Homo sapiens: one gene and its partners. The protein of the gene in region 1 purifies or fractionates together with the protein of each later gene. This does not show direct contact. Each region holds a gene or a part of one and is shown in the gene's direction. Other genes may lie near its edges. The genes, in order: TRIM40, USP8, THADA, PLOD1, CUX1, RAP1B and DEDD2.

What was found.
Region 2: the proteins of TRIM40 (region 1) and USP8 purify together in Homo sapiens (affinity purification with mass spectrometry, with the first as the bait; one large-scale study listed by BioGRID). This does not show direct contact.
Region 3: the proteins of TRIM40 (region 1) and THADA purify together in Homo sapiens (affinity purification with mass spectrometry, with the first as the bait; one large-scale study listed by BioGRID). This does not show direct contact.
Region 4: the proteins of TRIM40 (region 1) and PLOD1 purify together in Homo sapiens (affinity purification with mass spectrometry, with the first as the bait; one large-scale study listed by BioGRID). This does not show direct contact.
Region 5: the proteins of TRIM40 (region 1) and CUX1 purify together in Homo sapiens (affinity purification with mass spectrometry, with the first as the bait; one large-scale study listed by BioGRID). This does not show direct contact.
Region 6: the proteins of TRIM40 (region 1) and RAP1B purify together in Homo sapiens (affinity purification with mass spectrometry, with the first as the bait; one large-scale study listed by BioGRID). This does not show direct contact.
Region 7: the proteins of TRIM40 (region 1) and DEDD2 purify together in Homo sapiens (affinity purification with mass spectrometry, with the first as the bait; one large-scale study listed by BioGRID). This does not show direct contact.

What each region holds. Positions count from the first base shown.
Region 1 is NC_000006.12:30,139,140-30,142,639, forward strand, and holds part of TRIM40 (E3 ubiquitin ligase TRIM40), read left to right. Parts: intron 1-3,500. UniProt on the Homo sapiens protein: E3 ubiquitin-protein ligase that plays a role in the limitation of the innate immune response. Mediates inhibition of the RLR signaling pathway by ubiquitinating RIGI and IFIH1 receptors, leading to their proteasomal degradation.
Region 2 is NC_000015.10:50,476,405-50,479,904, forward strand, and holds part of USP8 (ubiquitin carboxyl-terminal hydrolase 8), read left to right. Parts: intron 1-444; coding exon 445-589; intron 590-871; coding exon 872-1,095; intron 1,096-3,500. UniProt on the Homo sapiens protein: Hydrolase that can remove conjugated ubiquitin from proteins and therefore plays an important regulatory role at the level of protein turnover by preventing degradation. Converts both 'Lys-48' an 'Lys-63'-linked ubiquitin chains.
Region 3 is NC_000002.12:43,589,539-43,593,038, reverse strand, and holds part of THADA (tRNA (32-2'-O)-methyltransferase regulator THADA), read left to right. Parts: intron 1-148; exon of another isoform or gene 149-195; intron 196-622; 5' UTR 623-646; coding exon 647-722; intron 723-992; coding exon 993-1,087; intron 1,088-2,084; coding exon 2,085-2,215; intron 2,216-3,500. UniProt on the Homo sapiens protein: Together with methyltransferase FTSJ1, methylates the 2'-O-ribose of nucleotides at position 32 of the anticodon loop of substrate tRNAs.
Region 4 is NC_000001.11:11,972,717-11,976,037, forward strand, and holds the end of PLOD1 (procollagen-lysine,2-oxoglutarate 5-dioxygenase 1 isoform 2 precursor), read left to right. Parts: intron 1-155; coding exon 156-281; intron 282-1,936; coding exon 1,937-2,092; 3' UTR 2,093-2,821; downstream 2,822-3,321. UniProt on the Homo sapiens protein: Part of a complex composed of PLOD1, P3H3 and P3H4 that catalyzes hydroxylation of lysine residues in collagen alpha chains and is required for normal assembly and cross-linkling of collagen fibrils.
Region 5 is NC_000007.14:102,195,126-102,198,625, forward strand, and holds part of CUX1 (Homeobox protein cut-like 1), read left to right. Parts: intron 1-381; coding exon 382-478; intron 479-1,508; coding exon 1,509-2,180; intron 2,181-3,500. UniProt on the Homo sapiens protein: May be involved in intra-Golgi retrograde transport.
Region 6 is NC_000012.12:68,655,899-68,659,398, forward strand, and holds part of RAP1B (ras-related protein Rap-1b isoform 1 precursor), read left to right. Parts: intron 1-407; coding exon 408-551; intron 552-1,202; coding exon 1,203-1,289; 3' UTR 1,290-1,319; intron 1,320-3,381; 3' UTR 3,382-3,500. UniProt on the Homo sapiens protein: GTP-binding protein that possesses intrinsic GTPase activity. Contributes to the polarizing activity of KRIT1 and CDH5 in the establishment and maintenance of correct endothelial cell polarity and vascular lumen.
Region 7 is NC_000019.10:42,198,098-42,200,677, reverse strand, and holds the end of DEDD2 (DNA-binding death effector domain-containing protein 2), read left to right. Parts: intron 1-848; coding exon 849-1,240; 3' UTR 1,241-2,080; downstream 2,081-2,580. UniProt on the Homo sapiens protein: May play a critical role in death receptor-induced apoptosis and may target CASP8 and CASP10 to the nucleus. May regulate degradation of intermediate filaments during apoptosis.

The sequences.
Region 1 (3,500 bases):
ATAATGACAAGAAAGCTAAAACAAATAAATAACGATGACACTTGTTCATTAAGTAAAAACTTAGTAAGTTCCTGCTGTGTGTGAGAAACTGCAGCATGTGCTAGGAATCAATGAAGACAGATGCCATTCCTTCTGCCAGGAGTTTGCAGTGTAGTAAGGGAGACACAAATAAGTAATCAAAGAACTGTAACTTTTTTTTCTTTTTTTTTTTTTTTTTTTTTTGAGATGGAGTCTCATTCTGTCACCCAAGCTGGAGAGCAGTGGCATGATCTCGGCTCACTGCAACCTCCGTCTCCCAGGTTCAAGCAATTCTTTGCCTCAGCCTCCCGAGTAGCTGGGATTACAGGCACCCACCACCAGGCCTAGCTAATTTTTGTATTTTTAGTAGAAACAGGGTTTCACCATCTTGGCCAGGCTGGTCTTGAACTCCTGACCTCATGATCCATCTGCGCTGGCCTCCCAAAAGAACTGTAACTTTTTATTAGTTAGGAAGAAAATAAACAAGGGTCTGGGATGAACAGTAATGGGTGGCCCATGTCCATTTGGTCAGTGAGGGCCTCATAGAGGAAGTGACCTTGAAGCTGAGGGCTGGCAGAAGAGAAATCAACCTGCAAAGACAGGGGGTAGGGAGTGCATACAGATGCCCACACCTGAGAAGTCTTGTTATATTTGAAGAATTTATCATTAGAGTTTGAATCGACAGGACTTACTGAGAGATTAGAAGTGGGTTCTTTGTAAGAAAAAAACAACCCCATCAAAAAGTGGGCAAAGGATATGAACAGACGCTTCTCAAAAGAAGACATTTATGCAACCAACAGACATATGAAAAAATGCTCATCATCACTGGTCTTTAGAGAAATGCAAATCAAAACCACAATGAGATACCATCTCTGCCAGTTAGAATGGCAATCATTAAAAAGTCAGTAAACAACAGATTCTGGAGACGAAGTGGAGAAATAGGAACGCTTTTACACTGTTGGTGGGAGTGTAAATTAGTTCAACCATTGTGGAAGACAGTGTGGTGATTCCTCAAGGATCTAAAACCAGAAATACCATTTGACCCAGCAATCCCATTACTGGGTATATACCCAAAGGATTATAAATCATTCTACTATAAAGACACATGCACACGTATGTTTATTGTGGCATGGTTCACAATAGCAAAGACTTGGAACCAACCCAAATGCCCATCAACGATAGACTGGATAAAGAAAATATGGCACATATACACCATGGAATACTATGCAGCCATAAAAACAGATGAGTTCACGTCCTTTACAGGGACGTGGATGAAGATGGAAACCATCATTCTCAGCAAACTAACACAAGATCAGAAAACCAAACACCACATGTTCTCACTCGTAAGTGAGAGTTGAACAATGAGAACACGTGGACACAGGGAGGGGAATATCACACACCAGGGCCTGTGAGGGGATGGGGGGTAGGGGAGGGATAGCATTAGGAGAAATACCTAACGTGGATGACGGTTTGATGGGTGCAGCAAACCACCATGGCACGTGTATACCTATGTAACAAACCTGCATGTTCTGTCCATGTGCCCCAGAACTTAAAGTATATATATTTTAAAAAGTGGGTTGAAGGAAGGAGGAAGGTCAAAGATGACTTCATGAGTTTCTGGTTTGAGAAACTGAATAGATGATGTGAAAGATAATAACTTGGTAGAACAGGTTTGAATGCAACACCAAGAGTTTCATTTAAGACAAGTTGAGTCCAAGTTGAGACACATCAAAATAGGATCTTACATACGCAGCTGGATCACAAATTTAGATCTCCAGAGTCTTATTCCTAGAACCTAGAACAAAGATCCATCCAGGCAAAGACAATATTTAAATCCAAGAAAAGCGGGCACGGTGGCTCACACCTGTAGTCCCAGCACTTTGGGAGGCCAAAGTGGGAGGATCGCTTGAGCCCAGGAGTTCAAGACCAGCTTAGGCAACACAGTGAGATACTATCTCTAGAACAACAACAGCAACAACAAAGTGAAATTAACAGGATTTAAAAAAAAGAACGTGACAATTTGGGGCTGGGTGCAGTGGCTCACGCCTGTGGTCCCAGCTACTTGGAAGGTTGAGGTGGGAGGATTGCTTGAGCCCAAGAGAGTGAGGCTGGAGTGAGCTGTGATTGTGCCACTGCACTGCAGCCAGGAAGACAGAGCAAGACCCTGTCTCAAACAAAGAAACAAACAACCAAGAAACCAAGGAAACTGATGTAATTGCCTCAAAAGAGGCTAGACAGAAAAAGAAGTTTTGGGGTAAGGTTCTGGGAAAGGCCGTCATTTAGATGTAGGCAGAGGAGGACCCAGCAAAGGAGACAGGATGAGTTGCCAGAAAGGCAGGAGAAAAACAAGGGGAATGGTGCCCCAGCTGCTAAGAGAGAAGGGTATTTTAAGAGATTATAATAGATTGCATTGAACAATGCTAACACTTCAGTAAGATGGTGGCAGAGGCATGAGAGCTGAGTTGGGAGGAGGCACACTTCTTCCATAGTAATAACAGGGAACAAGAGAAGGTGTCTGCAAGCCTACATAGTTTTGCAGTTTTGGAAATCCAGGTTTTGTTCTGGTTTTTATTTTCTCATAATATTTGAGGAAGGAACATCAGCAGTATGGGTGGGATCAGGATGGATGTGAAAGGTTTGAAAAGAAACAAGATGGTGTGATGCAGTGTGGGAGAGCGCTTACAAGAGAAACTATGTAGGGTTGGCAGACAGTATGTAGCACCAATTTGAGGTCTGAAATGTTTAACATGTTTCAGGAGGCTGCCTGAGGACAGACAGCAAACAAGAAGGTGATGGTACATTTTACCATGGATAAGGAGTTGTCTGAAAAGTAACACAGAGAGGGAGGGTAAGGGAGTTGAGTATATTTCTGAAGAAGTGATTATAATGGTGGACCTTATGTGTACTCATGGATATTGACAGCGTAATTTTGAAATTAAGGAGGGTTTTTTTTTACTGATTTTTTCACCATATCTCTATTTATTTGAATTAAACTTTGTAGTTAAGTATTGTAAATTTTGTTCTTTTAAAAGAATCATATAATCCCTGACTGTACTCTAAAAAGACCGAAAAATTTATAAAATCTACAAATTCTTATTTGTATACCTGTTTCCTCACTGACCAGTCAATGTCAGTGTCAATCACTTTAATGTATTTTGCTGGTTTAGTAAGTGTGTGACAGTGATGTACGTTGTTTTACTTTGCTTGATTATGAATGCTAGTAGTGGTGAGGCTTTTATCCATGAAGACTCGCTGTCTGCATTTTCCCCTAGAATCAGGGCATAAATTCTACATGATTGCATCAAAATAGTTTATCTTTTGGATAATGAGCTCCATTAGTTGTGTTTGTTTAACCTACATTTTTTTATTCTGTTATTTCTTCTTAATTATATTTTTGGGCAACTTTTTAGAAATTTGCATTTAAATTGGCTCTATTCTTTTTTATAATATAATCTCCATGTCTTAAATACACAGAAATTTGT
Region 2 (3,500 bases), on another chromosome or scaffold:
GGGTGATAGAGTGAGACCTTGTCAATCAGTCAACCAGTAGTCGAATATTACCTAGCATTGCAAATGATGATATAGCTCTATAGTGATGAAAGATGTTCATAGAAAAGCAACATCATAAAGGTTTTATTGAAAACTCTCTATAAGAGTAAACTCCAGAATGTAAAGTGGTATTGGGGTGGTGAGGTTATGGGTCATTTTTGTTTTATATTTAGTAATTTATTTTCTAATTTTTCTTCTAAGATCATTGATTATTTGTATGGTTTTTAAAACCTCACCTATATAACCATTTCATTTAATGTTGAATTTTGAATTCAGTTCTCATTTTGTCATTATTTAGAAGATAAATTTTGTCCTTAAGGGAACAACTTTAAAATTTAGATTTGTTGTGTTTTTAGCTGTTGAAAGATTGCTGCCCTATTTAAAATATGATTTCCTTATTTATAGTGGGAAAGTAAAACTGTCCTGCGCAATGAGCCTTTGGTTTTAGAGGGAGGCTATGAAAACTGGCTCCTTTGTTATCCCCAGTATACAACAAATGCTAAGGTCACTCCACCCCCACGACGCCAGAATGAAGAGGTGTCTATCTCATGTATGTATGTGAAAATTTTTGTTTAAAATTGCTTTGGTAAAATATGGTTTAAAATTGTTTTCCCGGTAACATTCTTGGTTGTGTGTGTATTTGTCCTATTAGAGAGCAGTTTGTTTTCAGGCATAAAAATATAAGCCTGGAAGTTCACATTTTCTTTAAGACTGTTGTAATTGTTTTTTCACTTAGTTTACATTTAATTACTGCATTAACACGCATGAGAAATGTAAGTACTGTGTATGGGGTTTGCTATTCTAAAAAACATTTTTATTTTTGGAATTTTAGTGGATTTTACTTATCCCTCATTGGAAGAATCAATTCCTTCTAAACCTGCTGCCCAGACGCCACCTGCATCTATAGAAGTAGATGAAAATATAGAATTGATAAGTGGTCAAAATGAGAGAATGGGACCACTGAATATATCAACTCCAGTTGAACCAGTTGCTGCTTCTAAATCTGATGTTTCACCCATAATTCAGCCAGTGCCTAGTATAAAGAATGTTCCACAGGTATGTTCTTGATTTTAACATTATTCTCGCTTTTGTTTTAATATTAAATATATAGTATAGCTGGGCACAGTGCCTCACGCCTGTAATCCCAGCACTTTGGGAGGCTGAGAGGGGCAGATCACCTGAGGTCAGGAGTTTGAGACCAACCTGGCCAACATGGTGAAACCCCCCTCTCTACTAATAATACAAAAATTAGCTGGGCATGGTGGTGGGTGCCTATAAATCCAGCTGTTTGGGAGGCTGAGGCATGAGAATTGTCTGAACCCAGGAAGCGGAGGTTGCAGTGAGTCGAGATTGCACCACTGCACCCCAGCCTGGGTGACAGCAAGACTCTGTCTCAAAAAAAAAAAAAAGAATTAAATACATAGTATAGAAACGAAGTTTAATATATAACCTTTAACATCTTAGAAAAAAGTATCGATGAGAACAGTCTGTATGTTTTGATAAATTTTTTGTTTAAAAATTTTTCATCATAATTCAGCATTACCGCCACGCCTATATTAGAGTAGATAATTAAGGGGTTTCCAAGCCAGTTGGCGATCCATTTGCTACAAACAATGCCAATGAAAGATTGCATTATCACAGTGAATTAGAATAGCCCTTTTGGGATTTTTTGTATTATAATTTGACCCATATTATTTTCATAAATAGCTTGGCTTACATATGATAGGTATGTGATGTCAGTATTTTGGTTTTAAAACAGTGCTTTAGTTTCATTTCCTTAGAATTTGACACGCAAATAACAGGCATGTTTAACAATAATCATGTAAAAGTTTTTAAATAACCAAGACATTACAAATAAAAAAATTTTAGTTTTTATATCCTTCATTTGGCTTTATTTAAAGAAAGGTTAACTAATGTTCCCCCTCCATGCATTTCCCAATAACATTTTTTAGCATTCATTTTTAATTTTTTCCCCAGATATATTTAAAACAGTATTTCACATTTAAAGTGGATGACGTTTGATTTGTGGAGCAGGTATTGAATAGAAAATCTGGTAATTTTTTGTTATAAACTGAAGTGGTTCATTTCTTCATTTTTTTAAGGTCTTTTAGTATTGCAGAATAAATTGCAGACTAAATAGATGTGATTAAACAACTTTTCTTAAAGGGTGAATTTAGGAAAGTCTAAAAAGAGCTTCTCTATGTTATTGCATTTCCTTTCAACTTAATCTATTTAAACGCTAATCCTTTTGTGTCCCAACATAACTTTATGAGATACGTACAATTTTCAGACATATTTTGAAGATCTTCTATATAAAAAACAGCATGAGGGCTGGGTGCCATGGCTCGTGCCTGTAATCCCAACACTTTAGGAGGCGGAGGCAGGTGGGTCACCTGAGGTCAGGAGTTCCAGACCAGCCTGGTCAACATGGTGAAACCCCATCTCTACTGAAAATACCAAAATTAGCCAGGCGTGGTGGTGCGTGCCTGCAGTCCCAGCTACTCAGGAGGCTGAGGCAGGAGAATCACATGAACCCAGGAAGCAGAGTTGTAGTGAGCCGAGATCAGGCCACTGCACTCCAGCCTGGGTGAGAGTGAGACTCTGTCTCAAAAAAAAATAAAAATAAAAATAAGACAGCATGAAAGTTTGTATATACAAGAGATGGGTTCTTCTGATGTTTGGAAGGAGAGATCTGTATAAAATCAGCCACAGCATAAGGCAGAATATCATAATTGCTCTACAAGGCACTGGAGCACAGAGCAAGGAGAATATTCTAGCTGAGAAGATCAAGGACGTCTTCATGGAGGAGACAGTATTTTATCTGGGCTTTAAGAGTAGGATTGGAGGATAGAAGAAACAAGTAGAAAATTCTATGACCAAAGGCATAGGGCATGCTCTGGGGCCAGTGAACAGTTTTGGCATATGTGGGCGCTAGTCTCTGTTGGAGAGAGGAAGTTATGATAGTAGATAAGATTAGAAGGATGGACAAGAGTCATCAAGAGAGACTTGGATCAAATTTGAATTTTGTCCTGTAGGCACAAGGAACCATTAAAGAATTTTAAACTTGAGAGTAACATGATCATAACTATACTTTTAAAATTAGGGAAAAATAGATCAAGCCACCAAAATGTAAATGGAAACAACATTTATTTTTGTTTCTGTTCCACCTCTTATTGTTAACCTCATCCCCATAGTGGTTCTTCCTACTTTATTCTCAAATACATGCAAAAAAAAAGACAAAGGATTTTTTTTAAGAGGCAGAAAGAGAAGTGAACAGGAAAAAAATTATTTTTTCTACACTAACCTCGTTTTCTTTTTCTTTTCTTTTTTTTTTGAAAACGGTCTCACTCTCTCACCCAGGCTGGAGTGCAGTGGCGTGATCACAGCTCACTGCAGCCTCGACTTCCTGGGTTCAAGCAATCCTCCCACCTCAGCCTCCTGAGTAGCTGGGATTATAGGCA
Region 3 (3,500 bases), on another chromosome or scaffold:
TCCAGATGGCATGGTACTATTAGTGTGTAGTTGTGTAGTCTCTGAGTTGGGTTGTTTAGCCTGTTATGAACCCGTTGATTTGTTAAGTATCGATAAAAGCAAACTCAAGAGAATAGCATTAAAAAAATATTTTTTTTCATTTTTGCAGAAATCAGGACACGGTAGTACCTCCTCTTAGTCTAATGAGTCACTGAGGTTAGTTTGAAGTATTTTATCTTTGGAAAAACTATCCCAGTTTTTTTGTGTGTATGTTCACTAAAAGGAAAGTTTGCTGTATTTTAAAATACAAAGACTGAGTCATAGTAGGTAAAATAACTTCAGTCAGTAATAAGCTTCAGCTTAAAACATTTTTCTTCTTCAAATCAGAAATTCTTAGACAGTGATTCTCATTCTGGAGCAGTTTTGCTCCCCAGGGGACACTTCACAGTGTTTGGAGACATATTTTGGTTGTCAGAACTTGGGAGGGAGGAGGGTGCCACTGGCATCTAGTGGGTAGAGATGGGGATGCATGAAACATAATGCATAGGATGATACTGTTCAACAAAGAATGAACCCAGCCAAAAATCATAGTGCTGAGGTTGAGAAACCTTACATTAATGCCTTAAAGTCTTCTTTCTTGCAGTGACTACTATTAATTCTATTTAAAATGGGTGTAAAGAAGAAGAAAGAAATGCAAGTTGCTGCGCTGACCATTTGCCATCAGGACCTTGAAACTTTGAAATGTAGGTGACTTCTGGTTTCCCTTATTATATTTTTTTCTAGTTTGCAAGCAGAGTATTTTAATGACTGGGACCCCTAGCATATAATATTCAAATTCTTTATATTTTTCCTTATGTTTTGGATGTAAAACAATTTTCTTAAAATTCTGTCTTCAGACTATGTTCCACCTATTGCTATGGTTTATAATTAAAAAATTTTGTAGAATGCACAACAAAGGCAAAGTTAACTCACTGTTAAATCATTGAAAATTTTTTTTTGTATATGTTATATAGCTTTTGCTGATGTGGAAGGGAAAAATCTAGCTTCTTTGCTGTTACATTGTGTGCAACTCACGGATGGAGTGTCACAAATCCATTATATTAAACAGGTAAGTCTGAATTGATATTCATGGATGCATCTTTAAGAGTATCATGCTATTAAGGATTTAAAAAAAATCACTGACAGTTTTTGGTCCCTAATTATTGCATATCAGTTTATCATTAGCAAATAAGTATTTTTTTTTTTCTGTTTATTGTATAATATCCTTGTATTCAAAGCAGCAATAGAAGCCATATTCAGACTTCTATCATAATTGAACTGTAAACAGATAAGGTAGAAGATAATGTGCATACCTCTTTTGTGGAGATAAATTTTAAAATATATGAATCTTCAAAACTTTTTAGCAGACACATTTAAAAGTTAATTTAAAATATAAAGATTATACTTATTAGTATTTCAGTATTAGGATTTACCATTTGAGCACACATAGTTTTTTTTTTTGGAAAGCAAGTAAATGTATTACTGGTTTTTTAATAGTGCTACAGCTGTTCTTTACTGTAAGCCATTAACAGGTCTGTGATTCTCTGTGGAGGTGGGTCTGGAGGGTAAAGAGGGAGGTGGGGACATGAGTTTAAAAAGTTAATAAATAGTGAAATAGGTGTTTAAATCAGTATCCTTGACAGTGGAGTATGGAAAACATTTCACGTAATTGACACTTTGTTTTATTTATTTTTTTGAGATAGGGTCTCACTCTCTTACCCAGGCTGGAGTGCACTGGTGTGATCTTGGCTCAACCACAGCCTCAACCTCCTGGGCTCAAGCAATCCTCCTGCCTCAGCCCCCTGAGTAGCTGGGACTACAGGCATGTGCCACCATGCCTGGCTAATTTTTGTATTTTTTTGTAGAGACAGGGTTTCACCATGTTGCCCGAGCTTGTCTCGAACTCTCCTGGGCTCAAGCGATCTGCCCACCTCAGCCTCCCAAAGTGTTGGGATTACAGGGGTGAGCCACTGTACCCAGCAATTGAGACTTCAAAGAGTATCTGTAACCATGTTACTTTGCTATATTTGATATTATAAAAATTACTTCAATGTTTTGTATTATAGATTGTGCCTCTGCTGGAGAAAGCAGATAAAAATGGCATGTGTGATCCCACTATTCAAAGTTGTTTGGATATCTTAGCAGGCATTTATCTTTCTTTGAGTCTAAAGAATCCCTTGAAGAAAGTATTGGCAAGGTAAGAAAAAAAGGAAGGGAAGTTGGGTGTTATAAATGTTGAATTTGACCAAAAGTAACTGAAGTTCCTTCCTTGGTTTGATAAAACTGAACTGATACAGATCACAAAAAGTTCATTCATATGGTTTGTTCTCTGTTTCATTGATTAGTTACAACTATTTTTTTTTTTTTTTTTTTTTTGAGACGGAGTCTAGCTCTGTCGCCCAGGCTGGAGTGCAGTGGTGCGATCTTGGCTCACTGTCAGCTCTGCCTCCCGGGTTCACGCCATTCTCCTGCCTCAGCCACCACACCCGGCTAATTTTTTGTGTTTTTAGTAGAGATGTGGTTTCACCATGATAGCCAGGATGGTCTTGATCTCCTGACCTTGTGATCCGCCTTCTCAGCCTCCCAAAGTGATGGGATTACAGGTGTGAGCCACTGCGCCCAGCCTAGTTACAACTTTTTAAAAGTATAAAAAGCCTTCTTAGGTCACATGCTTAATAAACAGGCTGTGGGCTGTAGTTTGCTTACTCCTGCCTCAATCCATTTACATTTATTGGTTATGTTTAAATGTCATCTTGCTGTTTTTTCCTCTTTTTGTCCTATCTGTTCTTGGTTTAAATATATATTTACACAGATAACACAGGAATATAGGCTTGGTATAAAAATTTCAAATGATATAGAACTATACAAAATAAAAACTAAGGCTTCCATTTCATTGTTTAGGGCTTATCTTACTTTTCTTAGTAAAGATTGTCACTTACCGTTTTGGTATTTATCTTTCTAGACCTTCTCTTTGAGGTCAGCATATGTGTGTTACATTCTACTTTTTTTATATATATCTGTAAACGAGATTATACTCTACAGAATGCTCTGTAGCTTGTTTTTTCACTAAAGAATGTCTTAGAGATATTTCCATGTCATAAAATCCTAATTGTAGTAAAAGACATATAACATAAAAACTCAGTCTTAACCTTTTTTTTTTATGAATTCTTTTTTTTTAAATTTTAATTTTCATTTCGATAGGTTTTTGGGCAACAGGTGGTACTTGGTTACATGAATAAGTGGTGGTTTCTGAGATTTTGGTGCACACATCACCTGAGCAGTGTATACTGTACCCAACAATTTGTAGTCTTTTATTTCTCACCCCCTTCCCACCCTTTCCCCTGAGTCTCCAAAGGCCATTGTATCATTCTTATGCCTTTGCATCCTCATAGATAAGCTTCCACTTATGAGTGAGAACATATGATGTTTGAGTCTTAACCATTTTTAAGTGTACATAGTTCGCTATTGTTAAGTGTATTCAT
Region 4 (3,321 bases), on another chromosome or scaffold:
TTGCAGGCACTCGAGCATAGAGCCCCATGTAGACCTGGCCCCTGTAAGCTGACCTGCAGCAGGCCAGACCAGGCCCCATGTGTGCACCCTCCTCTCCTGGCCTTTGTGTCCTCCTTAACTAACACGGGCTCTCTTGTCCCCCTGCCTTGGTACAGGCCCAGTTTGACCTGGCCTTTGTCGTCCGCTACAAGCCTGATGAGCAGCCCTCACTGATGCCACACCATGATGCCTCCACCTTCACCATCAACATCGCCCTGAACCGAGTCGGGGTGGATTACGAGGTGAGCAGGAGCCAGCCGGGGTCAAGGGGCCGGCAATGGGGATGAGGAGGGCTAGCTGAGGAGAGGCTTCAGGGTGGTTGAGGCAGAGGGGCCCCAGGTAACCAGTGCCAGAGAACCAGAAAAAAAAGGATGTGGGTCTGTGGGAGGGCTTCCTGGAAGGGTTCACAGTCTAGCAGGAGGAGGGGCCAGGCTCTTAAGCTACTATTTTAAGAGATTTTTGGGCTCGGCATGGTGGCTGATGCCTGCAATCCCAGCAGTTTGGGAGGCCAAGGCAGGCAGATCACTTGGGGCCAGGAGTTTGAGACCAGCCTGGCCAACATGGCGAAACCCCATTTCCACTAAAAATAGAAAAATTAGCTGGGCGTGGTAGCACACACCTGTAATCTTAGCTACCCAGAAGGCTGAGGCATGAGAATCTCTTGAACCCAAGAGGTGGAGGTTGCAGTGAGCTGAGATCATGCCACTGCACTCCAGCCTGGGCAACAGAGCGAGACTCTGTCTCCAAAAAAAACAAAAAGAGGTTTTTTGAACTTAGCCCTGGGCTGGGTGCTGTGGAGAACACTCATAAAAACAGCTATAATCCTTTTTTTTTTCTTTTTCGAGACAGGGTCTTGCTCTGTCACCCAGGCTGGAGTGTAGTGGCATGATCACAGTTCACTGCAGCCTCAACCTCCTGGGCCCAAGCAATCCTCCCACCTCAGCCCCCCCAAGTAGTTGGGACCACAGGCGTGTGCCACCATGGCCAGCTAATTTTTTTTCTTGCTTTTAGAGATGGGGTTTCACTATGTTGCCCAGGCTGGAGCTATAATTTTTTGAGAGCTTACAACAAACATATCAGGCATCCCTAATCCAAGGATTCTCAACCAGGAGCAACTGTGGCCTGCAAGGGACATTGGCAGTACCTGGAGACATAATTGGTTTTTACAACTATGAGGGGCTACTGGCATCTAGTGGGTAGAAGTCAGAGATGCCCGGGACAGCCTTCCACAGCAAAGTGTCTATAGTGGTGAGGTTGGGAAGCTTGATCCTCAGCTCTCAATTGTAACATCTCATTTAATTCTCACTATCCTGTTCTGTTTAACCCTCATTTTACAGAAGGGGAAACTGAAGCTCAGGTTGGTCACAGTTAGTAAAGAGTGGAGGTGATGTCTGCCCAGGGCTGCCTGACTCCAAGGACAGAGCTCTTGATCACTTACTCTTTGGGTTTTTTTTTTTTTGAGACAGTCTCATTCTGTTGCCCAGGCTGGAGTACAGTGGCGCGATCTCGGCTCACTGCCTCCTGGGTTCAAGTGATTCTGTCTCAGCTTCCCGAATAGCTGGGATTACAGGCGTGCGCTGCTACACCCAGCTGGTTTTTGTATTTTTAGTAGAGATGGGGTCTCACCATGTTGGCCATGCTGGTCTTGAACTCCTGACCTCAGGTGGTCCACCCGCCTTGGCCTGCCAAAGTGCTGGGATTACAGGCGTGAGCCACCACTCCTGGCCACTACTCTTCATTTAGTGTCTTCCTTAGCAGCGCTTGTGGCTGTCACTCCAGAAGGCATCCCCAGGCAGGCAGTGCTGAGGGCCACTTGGCCATGACAGGAGATCATGACGGGAGAACAGACGGGCAGGGGGGCGGTGGGGAAAGGCCACTGATGCTTTCTGTCTCCCAGGGCGGGGGCTGTCGGTTCCTGCGCTACAACTGTTCCATCCGAGCCCCAAGGAAGGGCTGGACCCTCATGCACCCTGGACGACTCACGCATTACCATGAGGGGCTCCCCACCACCAGGGGCACCCGCTACATCGCAGTCTCCTTCGTCGATCCCTAATTGGCCAGGCCTGACCCTCTTGGACCTTTCTTCTTTGCCGACAACCACTGCCCAGCAGCCTCTGGGACCTCGGGGTCCCAGGGAACCCAGTCCAGCCTCCTGGCTGTTGACTTCCCATTGCTCTTGGAGCCACCAATCAAAGAGATTCAAAGAGATTCCTGCAGGCCAGAGGCGGAACACACCTTTATGGCTGGGGCTCTCCGTGGTGTTCTGGACCCAGCCCCTGGAGACACCATTCACTTTTACTGCTTTGTAGTGACTCGTGCTCTCCAACCTGTCTTCCTGAAAAACCAAGGCCCCCTTCCCCCACCTCTTCCATGGGGTGAGACTTGAGCAGAACAGGGGCTTCCCCAAGTTGCCCAGAAAGACTGTCTGGGTGAGAAGCCATGGCCAGAGCTTCTCCCAGGCACAGGTGTTGCACCAGGGACTTCTGCTTCAAGTTTTGGGGTAAAGACACCTGGATCAGACTCCAAGGGCTGCCCTGAGTCTGGGACTTCTGCCTCCATGGCTGGTCATGAGAGCAAACCGTAGTCCCCTGGAGACAGCGACTCCAGAGAACCTCTTGGGAGACAGAAGAGGCATCTGTGCACAGCTCGATCTTCTACTTGCCTGTGGGGAGGGGAGTGACAGGTCCACACACCACACTGGGTCACCCTGTCCTGGATGCCTCTGAAGAGAGGGACAGACCGTCAGAAACTGGAGAGTTTCTATTAAAGGTCATTTAAACCACTGAAGGGAAGATGCTCAGGGCGAGTGGGTGTGTGTGTGTCTTGGTGTGAGTGTCTGCAGGGAGAGAGGTTTTAAGAGCCCTCTTTTTTTTTTTTTTTCTTTTTTTGAGACAGAGTCTCACTCTGTCTTCCAGGCTGGAGTGCAATGACGCTATCCCCGCTTTCTGCAACCCCCGCCTCCTGGGTTCAAGTAATTCTCCTGCCTCAGCCTTCCGAGCAGCTGGGGCTACAGGCACCCATCACCACGCCTGGCTAATTTTTGTTTTTTTATTAAAGAAAGGGTTTCACCAGGTTGGTCTGGCTGGTCTTGAACTCCTGACCTCAGATGATCCACCCACCTCGGCCTCCCAAAGTGCTGGGATTACAGGCATGAGCCACCGTGCCCGGCCAAGAGCCCTCTTTTTAGAGCCTTTAAGAAAGGTCATGCTAGCCTCTCGACCCCTGAGTAGCTGGGATTATAGGTATCCATGCCTGACACATTTTTGTATTTTTTGTAGAAAC
Region 5 (3,500 bases), on another chromosome or scaffold:
AAAAAAAGAAAAGTTCCCTTTACAGTAACGTTCGGACAGACGTTTGTGGCTTGGCAGCCAGTCTTATGGCCAAATGAGGCACGGGCTCAGGTCGCTTGAGTTTGAGAACAGATGAGAGAATAATTAATTTTTTTAGGAGCTGTGGAAGTCTAAGAAGGAAAATGACTTCAACTAGAATCCATTCTTTCTAAAGGGAACTTGTTTTCCACGTGTGTTAAACGACTTGGGGGGAAATCAGCTGTCCGCAGCCCACTTCCTAATCAGATCGAGAGCTGGGTGGGAACGCGGACAGATGGAGGGAGGCAGGGCTCCAGGCCTGGTGGCCCCGGGAGCGGGTGAGTGGCCGGCCCCGCAGTGAGACCCCCGCTCTGCCCCTTCTAGGATGCGGCCAAGCCCCTGGAGGTGCTGTTGCTGGAGAAGAACCGCTCGCTGCAGTCCGAGAACGCCGCGCTGCGCATCTCCAACAGCGACCTGAGCGGTAGGTTGGCCGGGCTTCGCGCGTGTGCGGTGGTTGGTTCGCTTCCAGGGGTCGGTCGAGGACGAGGAAGGTGAATCGTGAGTCTGGACAGATGCATGGCCAGAGAAGCGCCGGTTGACGAGAACCTTTGACTAACGCGTGTTGGGTGCCCTCCTCCTCACCGCTCCTCCCTTCCCTTCCCCGCCCTGCTTAAAGCTGGATGTCGAGACGGGCCAGCCGCACAGGCTCTGCGGAGGTCAGTTAGGGGCAGTGCGGCTGGAATCCCCGGGAGGGACAGCTCGGAGGACGTCGGCCTTTCTGATCTGTGTCTGGTTGTGCTGCACAGAGGCCAGGGGCAGTGTGAACCCAGCCTCGCTCTGGTGGTGTTTTCAGGGACAGCCCCGGGCCTGCCGGGTCCAGTAGAGGTTTTTCTTCCTTGGTCAGGTTTCCCCTGGGGACGCGTCCCCCATCCTTAGCCTTTCTTGGCTCATCCCCCAAATGGTGGCGTCACTTGACTGTGCTTCTGGTTTGGGCAGCTGGTAAAACGCGTACAGGTGTCTCGGGCTCTAATGGTATTGCATTCTCAAAACGGGCGCGCGCCTCCACATCGAGGGGGCTCGGTACGGTGCATCGCCTCAGAGCAAGAGGTGCGAGCGAATCCATTGGTCCTAAAATGTCAGTGTTTGCTGCTCCTCCGGCCGGGGCCAGCGGGCCCAGTAAGAGGCCCGCGACCCGTCAACTCTTCCCTGTGTGTGTCACCAGCTCCTTGTCACGCTAGGAGTTTGAGTCTATGTCAAGGGGACTCTCCAGGCTGCAACGTACAAGAAAGGCGCAAACATGAATGCATGTTGCTTGTTTTGGGAAGCCTCGTTTGGCTGACTTACAAATTTAATCGGAAAACAAACCAACCCACCTCATTGGCCCTTGTAAAAAAAACCTGCACTTTTTTTTGTTTTCCCTTTTGCGGGGGCAAACTTTTGCATTTTGGTCTTGGTTTTTTTTTCCCCCTTTGGAATCCCCCATAATGCATTCTGTTTGCCCTTCCTTGTAGGGTCAGCCAGGAGGAAAGGGAAAGACCAGCCTGAAAGTCGGCGCCCGGGATCTTTGCCGGCCCCCCCTCCTTCTCAGTTGCCCCGCAACCCGGGGGAGCAGGCTTCCAATACTAATGGTACACACCAGTTCTCACCAGCGGGGTTAAGTCAAGACTTTTTCAGCTCATCCCTGGCAAGCCCCAGCCTACCCCTGGCTTCTACAGGAAAATTTGCACTAAACTCTCTTCTCCAGCGGCAGCTAATGCAGTCCTTCTACTCCAAGGCTATGCAGGAAGCCGGAAGCACAAGCATGATTTTTTCAACAGGTCCATACAGCACAAACTCCATATCTTCCCAAAGTCCATTACAACAAAGCCCAGATGTCAATGGCATGGCCCCATCCCCCAGCCAGTCAGAAAGTGCTGGGAGCGTCTCCGAGGGCGAGGAGATGGACACTGCAGAAATCGCCCGGCAGGTCAAAGAGCAGCTGATTAAGCACAATATCGGACAACGTATTTTCGGACATTATGTGTTGGGACTGTCTCAAGGGTCCGTGAGCGAGATTCTGGCCCGGCCCAAGCCATGGAATAAACTGACTGTTCGTGGCAAGGAGCCATTTCACAAGATGAAACAGTTCCTCTCCGATGAGCAGAACATCCTGGCCCTCCGTAGCATCCAAGGCAGACAAAGAGGTGAGAGACTGGCGTTGGGTGGCGCCAGCGTGCGAGCCCGTCACAGAGTTGCACATGTGTGTGTGCATGCGTGCGTGTGTCTGTGTGCGTGATGAAACATTTGTGCATCACATCAGGTAAAGTTCTCTTTGCTTCTGCCACGTCCAGAGCTCAAGGGTGGCCCGGCATGAGTTAAGGCTGTTAGATTTGGGAGATCTGGCCTTTGAAACGCACTCAGCACTCCATACTTAGGAAACCCTATAGTATTTCAATACTAGAGATCGTATCAGAGGGAATTGCATTACATGATGTATAGCGTCTCCGTATGCTTAGTGGCCGCGGGTCCAATTGGCCTTGGGTGCTGGTCTCACTTTTGGGAGGAGCCCTTAAGTCCCCTCCAGCCCCATAGCAGCAACGTTGACTGGGCTCGATCCTCATGCAAAGCTGGTTCTGTAGGGAGAACACATCACAGATGACACCTCCCCTCTTCCCACCCCGCAGAAGAGGGCGTGTCCCATGGCCACCTTCCCTACATTGTTCACGGTCCATTAGTGATTTGTTTAGCATTATGAGTAAAACAGGCCTGGCTTGAGTAAAATACACAAAAGTTTTATTTAAGCACCCTTTCTACCCCACCCTCCGTAAAAAGATAAAATGTCAGTCACATTCATAATTTCAAAAAATCCCAGCCGGGCACAGTAGCTCACGCCTATAATTCCAGCAGTTTGGGAGGCTGAGGTGGATGGATCGCTTGAGTCCAGGAGTTCAAGACCAGCCTGGGCAACATATATTTTGTAATCTTTTGATCTACAAAAAAATCAAAAGGTTAGCTGGGCGTGGTGGCGTGTACCTGTGGTCCCAGCTACTTGAGAGGCTAAGGCAGGAGGATGGCTTGAGCCCAGGAGGTGGAGGCTGCAGTGAGCCATGATTGAGCCACTGCACTCCAGTCTGGGCAACAGAGTGAGAACCTGCCTCAAATAAAAAAACAAAAAAGAAAGTTCCTTTTCTGTTTAAGACCAGGGGATCAATGTGCCACATCAACAGAGCTATTGAGAGGTCATTTCATCAGACATGTTTGAAACACCCTGAAATTTAGACTCAAACAGAGCAGGGAGATGTTTTGAACAGCATCAATTTGCACCAAGAAAATGCAGTGTTTTATGAGGATGTTAACCGAAATTGAATGTCTTTGGATGATTAATGCGAGCTTTGTTCTGGGGGCTGGCGGGTGATCCTCCTTCAAGGCAGTCCTCCCTCCCATGGACCTCCCTGGCCTCAATGCCGTAGGTCGCTACTTAGATTTCCCCCATCTCCTTTTGCAGCAGAGCCACGGCCTCTGCG
Region 6 (3,500 bases), on another chromosome or scaffold:
CCATTATGATAAAATTTTAAGGTTTTTTCCCCCCATCTCTCATAACAGGATCATAGCTTGTTTTCTCAAAAGTTTATGTAAAAGTGTCTTATTTATGTCTACATTGACTAGGTTGTGTTCATTTTACTTAACATATGAGAGTTTTCTTTCTCTCTTTTCTTCCCTTTGGAGTTATCGTTTGCATCTCCATGAAAAGAGAAGGCAGTGGAGATAATTGACATCAAAGTTAATACTTATGTTTATGTTACAGATTAAATTGTTAAGGCTGTAAATTTTATTATACATTATTTAATATTTTTTGTGGCATATGAAAAGTAATTCTTAGATTTGACTCTTAGAATTCTTTTGATTTGAATTCATATAGCATATTTACTTATTTATTTTTACTCTCACAAATGTATTTTTAGGTTCCAATGATTCTTGTTGGTAATAAGTGTGACTTGGAAGATGAAAGAGTTGTAGGGAAGGAACAAGGTCAAAATCTAGCAAGACAATGGAACAACTGTGCATTCTTAGAATCTTCTGCAAAATCAAAAATAAATGTTAATGAGGTATGGTCAAATATACTTAAAATGGGTCTTCATTTGAAGTACAACATTGAAGATGAATGGAAAATGTCTTAACCCCAAGTTAATATGTACTCAGGGTAATATGTTGATGTTACAGGCAAAAAAAAAAAACCCTCATGTTAAATGTATCTATGTAGTAAATAAACAATACTATTTCAGTCTCTATTAAATACTTGTACATTGATATTTACCATGAAAAAGGAAGACTGGACAGAAAATACATGGATAGGGAAGACAGATTAAGACTTCAGGTATATGAAGGATGTTATATGAAAAATAGAGTAAAATTCCGAAAAGTATGCATGGTTCTTGAAAGGCTCCAAGTCATGTTGTAGAGCAAAAACTTACAGTTTTTAAAAGGATTTTTTCTTTGTGTGATGGTAAATGTTCTAATTGAACTAAGTTAAGATCTCTGCAGCTCCTTCAACTAAGTATTTTAAGGAGCACAATATTAACACTCCCCAAAAATTTGAGCTTGGCAGTTATAACACCTGATTTTATTCTCATTCCTTAGCTGAACAATTCTGGGCATTAATTTATATCCATGGAAATTTCTGTTTTTTCAATTTACTTTTTTCATTGGGGGGGATAGGTGTTCCTCCTGTAAATTAAAACAAATTATTGTATTTGCAGATCTTTTATGACCTAGTGCGGCAAATTAACAGAAAAACTCCAGTGCCTGGGAAGGCTCGCAAAAAGTCATCATGTCAGCTGCTTTAATATACTAAATGCATTGTAGCTCTGAGCCAGGTATGTTCACTTATCTTTCCTCTAACTTTTAATCACTCAACCTTATTAAGGGCACTCTGTCATGAAAGCAAGTATAGACTTCTTTTTGTTGGTTCTGAAAAATAAATGGTTTATTTTTATAAGATATCCATGAGTTAGTATGCTATCTTATTAATTATTTACTTATCATCATGAGTAAAGTATTTCACATAAGTATTCTTTTTTTGAGATGGAGTTTCACTCTGTCACCCAGGCTGGAGTGCAGTGGCGCAATATCAGCTCCCTGCAACCTCCGCCTCCCAGGTTCAAGCAATGCTTCTGCCTCAGCCTCCCGAGTAGCTGGGATTACAGGCACGTGCCACCACGCCCGGCTAGTTTTTTTGTATTTTTAGTAGAGATGGTGTTTCACCATTGTTGGCCAGGATGGTCTCAATCTCTTGACCTCGTGATCTGCCCACCTCGGCCTCCCAAAGTGCTGAGATTACAGGCGTGAGCCACCACTCCCAGCCAACCCCGTCCCTAATTTAAAACACACACACACACACACACACACACACACACACACACACACACACACGTGCGCGCGTGCGCGTGAGCCACCGCTCCCAGCCAACCGTCCCTAATTTAAAACACACACACACACACACACCCCTGACATGTTCATCATGTGCCAGTCACACACACACACACACCCCTGACATGTTCATCATGTGCCACTTTTTTTTTTTTCCTTCAACTTTTAAGTTCCAGGATACATGTGCAGGATGTGCAGGTTTGTTACATAGGTAAAGGTGTACCATGGGGTTTGCTGCACAGATCTTGCATCGGTACCTGGCACATAGTTAACACTCAACTATTAGCTGCTGCTGTTTGCCAATGATAATGGTTTCCTCTTCAGCTGTCATTAAACTGTTTATTGTTAAACTGTTAATTTATTCTTAAGAACCTTTGACATTCCTGACTCTTATTTCTTCCTATGTTAATTGACTCAGTGCTGCCATAGCACTTTGATTCTGCATCTTTTCAGAGTTTTTATTCCTGCCTTCCATCTAGGGCTTTCTGTTTAGTGGTATATCCTCTCATTCTAATATCCTATAATTCCTGACCACATGCCCATTCTTAGCAGCACACATGTGCTTGAGCTCACACACTTCCATCTGTCCTTTTTAATTTGCAACAGTCTGCCAGGATTTAGAAAACTTGATTGCAAACCTCATTCAGACTCAGAATGAGGACCTAAAGTTCTAGGCATTTGTGAAAATTATTTCAACAGCCACATATGTATTAACAACTCTTCTGGAGCTTGTAACAAGTCTGATCACCAGAAAAATATAATAGGGAACATTTTTTTAGCCGAGGCATGTATGCAGAAAACTATTCAAAGTACATATTTAACAATTCTAAGTTTACTTTTTAAAATCTTTAATTACATGTGATTTTAGTGTAATACCACCTTTTTCTGACATCAGTCTTAATAGAATGTTTAAATATGGAATTAGAAATTATATAACGTGATTGTAAATCTGTAAAACACCATCATGAAATAAATTCTATTTGTCTGCTCTGAACGAGCTTTTTAGCCACTTTCATTGAAAGAGTGAGGAAGAACTTGATTATCTGATACTAGAAACCTTGGTTAGATGTGCATTCTATACTTATGATCTAATTCTAGGAGTACATTACGATTGTGTAAACACAGGATCACCCAGTTTGTTAATATTGCTATCTGACTTTTCAATCCTAATTCTAATAAGGTTGACTTGACTAACAATTTTAATGTGATTTTTTTCCTTTTTAATCCTTGGAAGGTAATGCACAAAAATTTGCACAAAGGTACTTTCCCTTTCTGTTCCTAAGATTTTCATTTAACTGACTTTCAAGAGGGCAGCAGAATAGACTTCATCTTTTTGGAATGAAAAGGTCTGCCGTGAATTGTGGTATGTTGCCACTAATGTAATGCCTAGAACAAGAGCCTAGATTATATTCATTTCTAACACTTTTAAGACTGTTTTCTTAACTGTTTGCTTTTGGGTCTTTACTTTTTCTAGCCCATGTTTTTAATTAATTTTTTTCCTTTTGACAGGTCTGAAGAACTGTTGCCCAATTCAACAGTGCCAGCATTCCAACTTTGTTAAACCTACCAACATCTTAAATGGACTTTCCTGTGGTGGTACCCTTTAAGAGGCGGATGAAAGCTACTAT
Region 7 (2,580 bases), on another chromosome or scaffold:
TAGGCTTCCTTCTCTCCTCTTGGCACAGTGGCTCCCAGCAGCTCTGGGCTTCCAACCCATCATCTTAGCAGCTCTGTGGCAAGAGAGTACCTGACTCCCAGTAGAGCCAGCACAGGTCCAGCCGCAAGCCTCCCGGGCCTGGTCAGGACCCTGCGCATCCGCAGTGCTGGCTCAGGTGGATGGGAGGGATGGGGATGTGGTTGGCACCATGTGAATCTCATTGTTTGGGGGCAGGGTGTGAGGCTGGTTGCCTTAAGGCAAGTCCATTAGTTCATGCATTAGTTCTTCACAAATACATATTGAACACCTACTATGTGCCACAGTTACACAAGTGAACAAAACAGACAAAAACCCCTTCCTTGCTGTCATCTGTCTCTCCATGCTGAGTGTAGAGACAGATAATGAGCAGATAGTAACTGACAGAGGAGGTTGGAAGGTGATAAGTGCCTTGGACAAAAATGGAGCAGGGTGTGGGACCTGGCATGCTGCAGAGAGGGCTGGGTGGGTGGTTACAGCTGTAAATAGGTTGGCCTAGGTGGGCCTTGTTGGCAAGGTGGCTTTTGAGCAAAGACCTGCAGGAAGAGAGGGAGCAAGTGTTGTGCAGATCCAGGGAAAGAGCACCCCTGGCGGTGGGGAGGCTTGTTGGAGCAGTGAGGAGGTGGTGGGCTGGAGAAGAGGAGGACGTACTTGGTCAGGGAACCCCACAGAGCCGGGGAGGCTGTGTCAGGACTAGGGTGTGGCTACCGGAAGGGGGTGGAGGGAGAAGGCTGGAGGGAGGAAGGGTGGCGTTCCCCATAAGTGTGTCTAGTGTTGGCCCCCTCCCTGACAAATCCCTCCTTCCCCTGCAGACATCCGGCTCCGGGTTCGAGCAGAGTACTGCGAGCATGGGCCAGCCTTGGAGCAGGGCGTGGCATCCCGGCGGCCCCAGGCGCTGGCGCGGCAGCTGGACGTGTTTGGGCAGGCCACCGCAGTGCTGCGCTCAAGGGACCTGGGCTCTGTGGTTTGTGACATCAAGTTCTCAGAGCTCTCCTATCTGGACGCCTTCTGGGGCGACTACCTGAGTGGCGCCCTGCTGCAGGCCCTGCGGGGCGTGTTCCTGACTGAGGCCCTGCGAGAGGCTGTGGGCCGGGAGGCTGTTCGCCTGCTGGTCAGTGTGGATGAGGCTGACTATGAGGCTGGCCGGCGCCGCCTGTTGCTGATGGAGGAGGAAGGGGGGCGGCGCCCGACAGAGGCCTCCTGATCCAGGACTGGCAGGATTGATCCCACCTCCAAGTCTCCGGGCCACCTTCTCCTGGGAGGACGACCATCTCTACCCCTAGAGGACTGTCACTCTAGCATCTTTGAGGACTGCGACAGGACCGGGACAGCAGGCCCCTTGACAGCCCCTCCCACAGGATGTGGGCTCTGAGGCCTAAACCATTTCCAGCTGAGTTTCCTTCCCAGACTCCTCCTACCCCCAGGTGTGCCCCCTTAGCCTCCGGAGGCGGGGGCTGGGCCTGTATCTCAGAAGGGAGGGGCACAGCTACACACTCACCAAAGGCCCCCCTGCACATTGTATCTCTGATCTTGGGCTGTCTGCACTGTCACAGGTGCACACACTCGCTCATGCTCACACTGCCCCTGCTGAGATCTTCCCTGGGCCTCTGCCCTGGCCTGCTTCCCAGCACACACTTCTTTGGCCTAAGGGCTTCTCTCTCAGGACCTCTAATTTGACCACAACCAACCTGGGCTTCAGCCACATCAGTGGGCACTGGAGCTGGGGTGCACATGGGGCCTGCTCACCTTGCCCACACATCTCCAGCCAGCCAGGGCCCTGCCCAGCTTCAATTTACAGACCTGACTCTCCTCACCTTCCCCCCTGCTGTCCAGAGCTGAACATAGACTTGCACTTGGATGTCACCTGGAGTGTCACATGGGAGTGTTATGGCAGCATCATACCAAGGCCTACTGTTGCACATGGGGCCAAAACCAGTAAACAGCCACCTTCTTGGAAAGGGAATGCAAAGGCTTTGGGGGTGATGGAAAAGACCTTTTACAAATGATACCAATTAAACTGCCCTGGAAAGGGCATAGGTGGGCATCGGCCTCTCTAGGACTCTTTATTTATTATTTAATTTAAATTTTTTTTTTAGAGTTGAGGGTCTTGATATGTTGCCCAGGCCAGCCTCAAATTCCTGGGCTCAAGCGATCCTCCTGCCTCAGCCTCCCAAGTAGCTGGGACTACAGGTGCCCGTCACCATGCCCAGCTTTTGGACCTCAGTGGGCTGGGAGGAGGAGTGTTCCTGGCCCAGCGTTAGGGACTGGAGTGTGGGCAGGATGCTGGACCATATGCCAGCTGATAACCACACGCTTGTCCTCCCCTCTGGGTGTCAGTCTTGTCCTCTGTCAAAGGAAGAAATAGAATACTGCCTCGGAGTCAGAAACCCTTCCAACCATGTTCACACATGCTTTGCTCCTGTATGTCCTTGGGGGCTCCCAGGAATTTTTTTTTTTTTTTTTTTTTGAGACGGAGTCTTGCTCTGTTGCCCAGGCTGGAGTGCAGTGGCATGATCTCAGCTCACTGCAAGCTCCGCCTCCCAG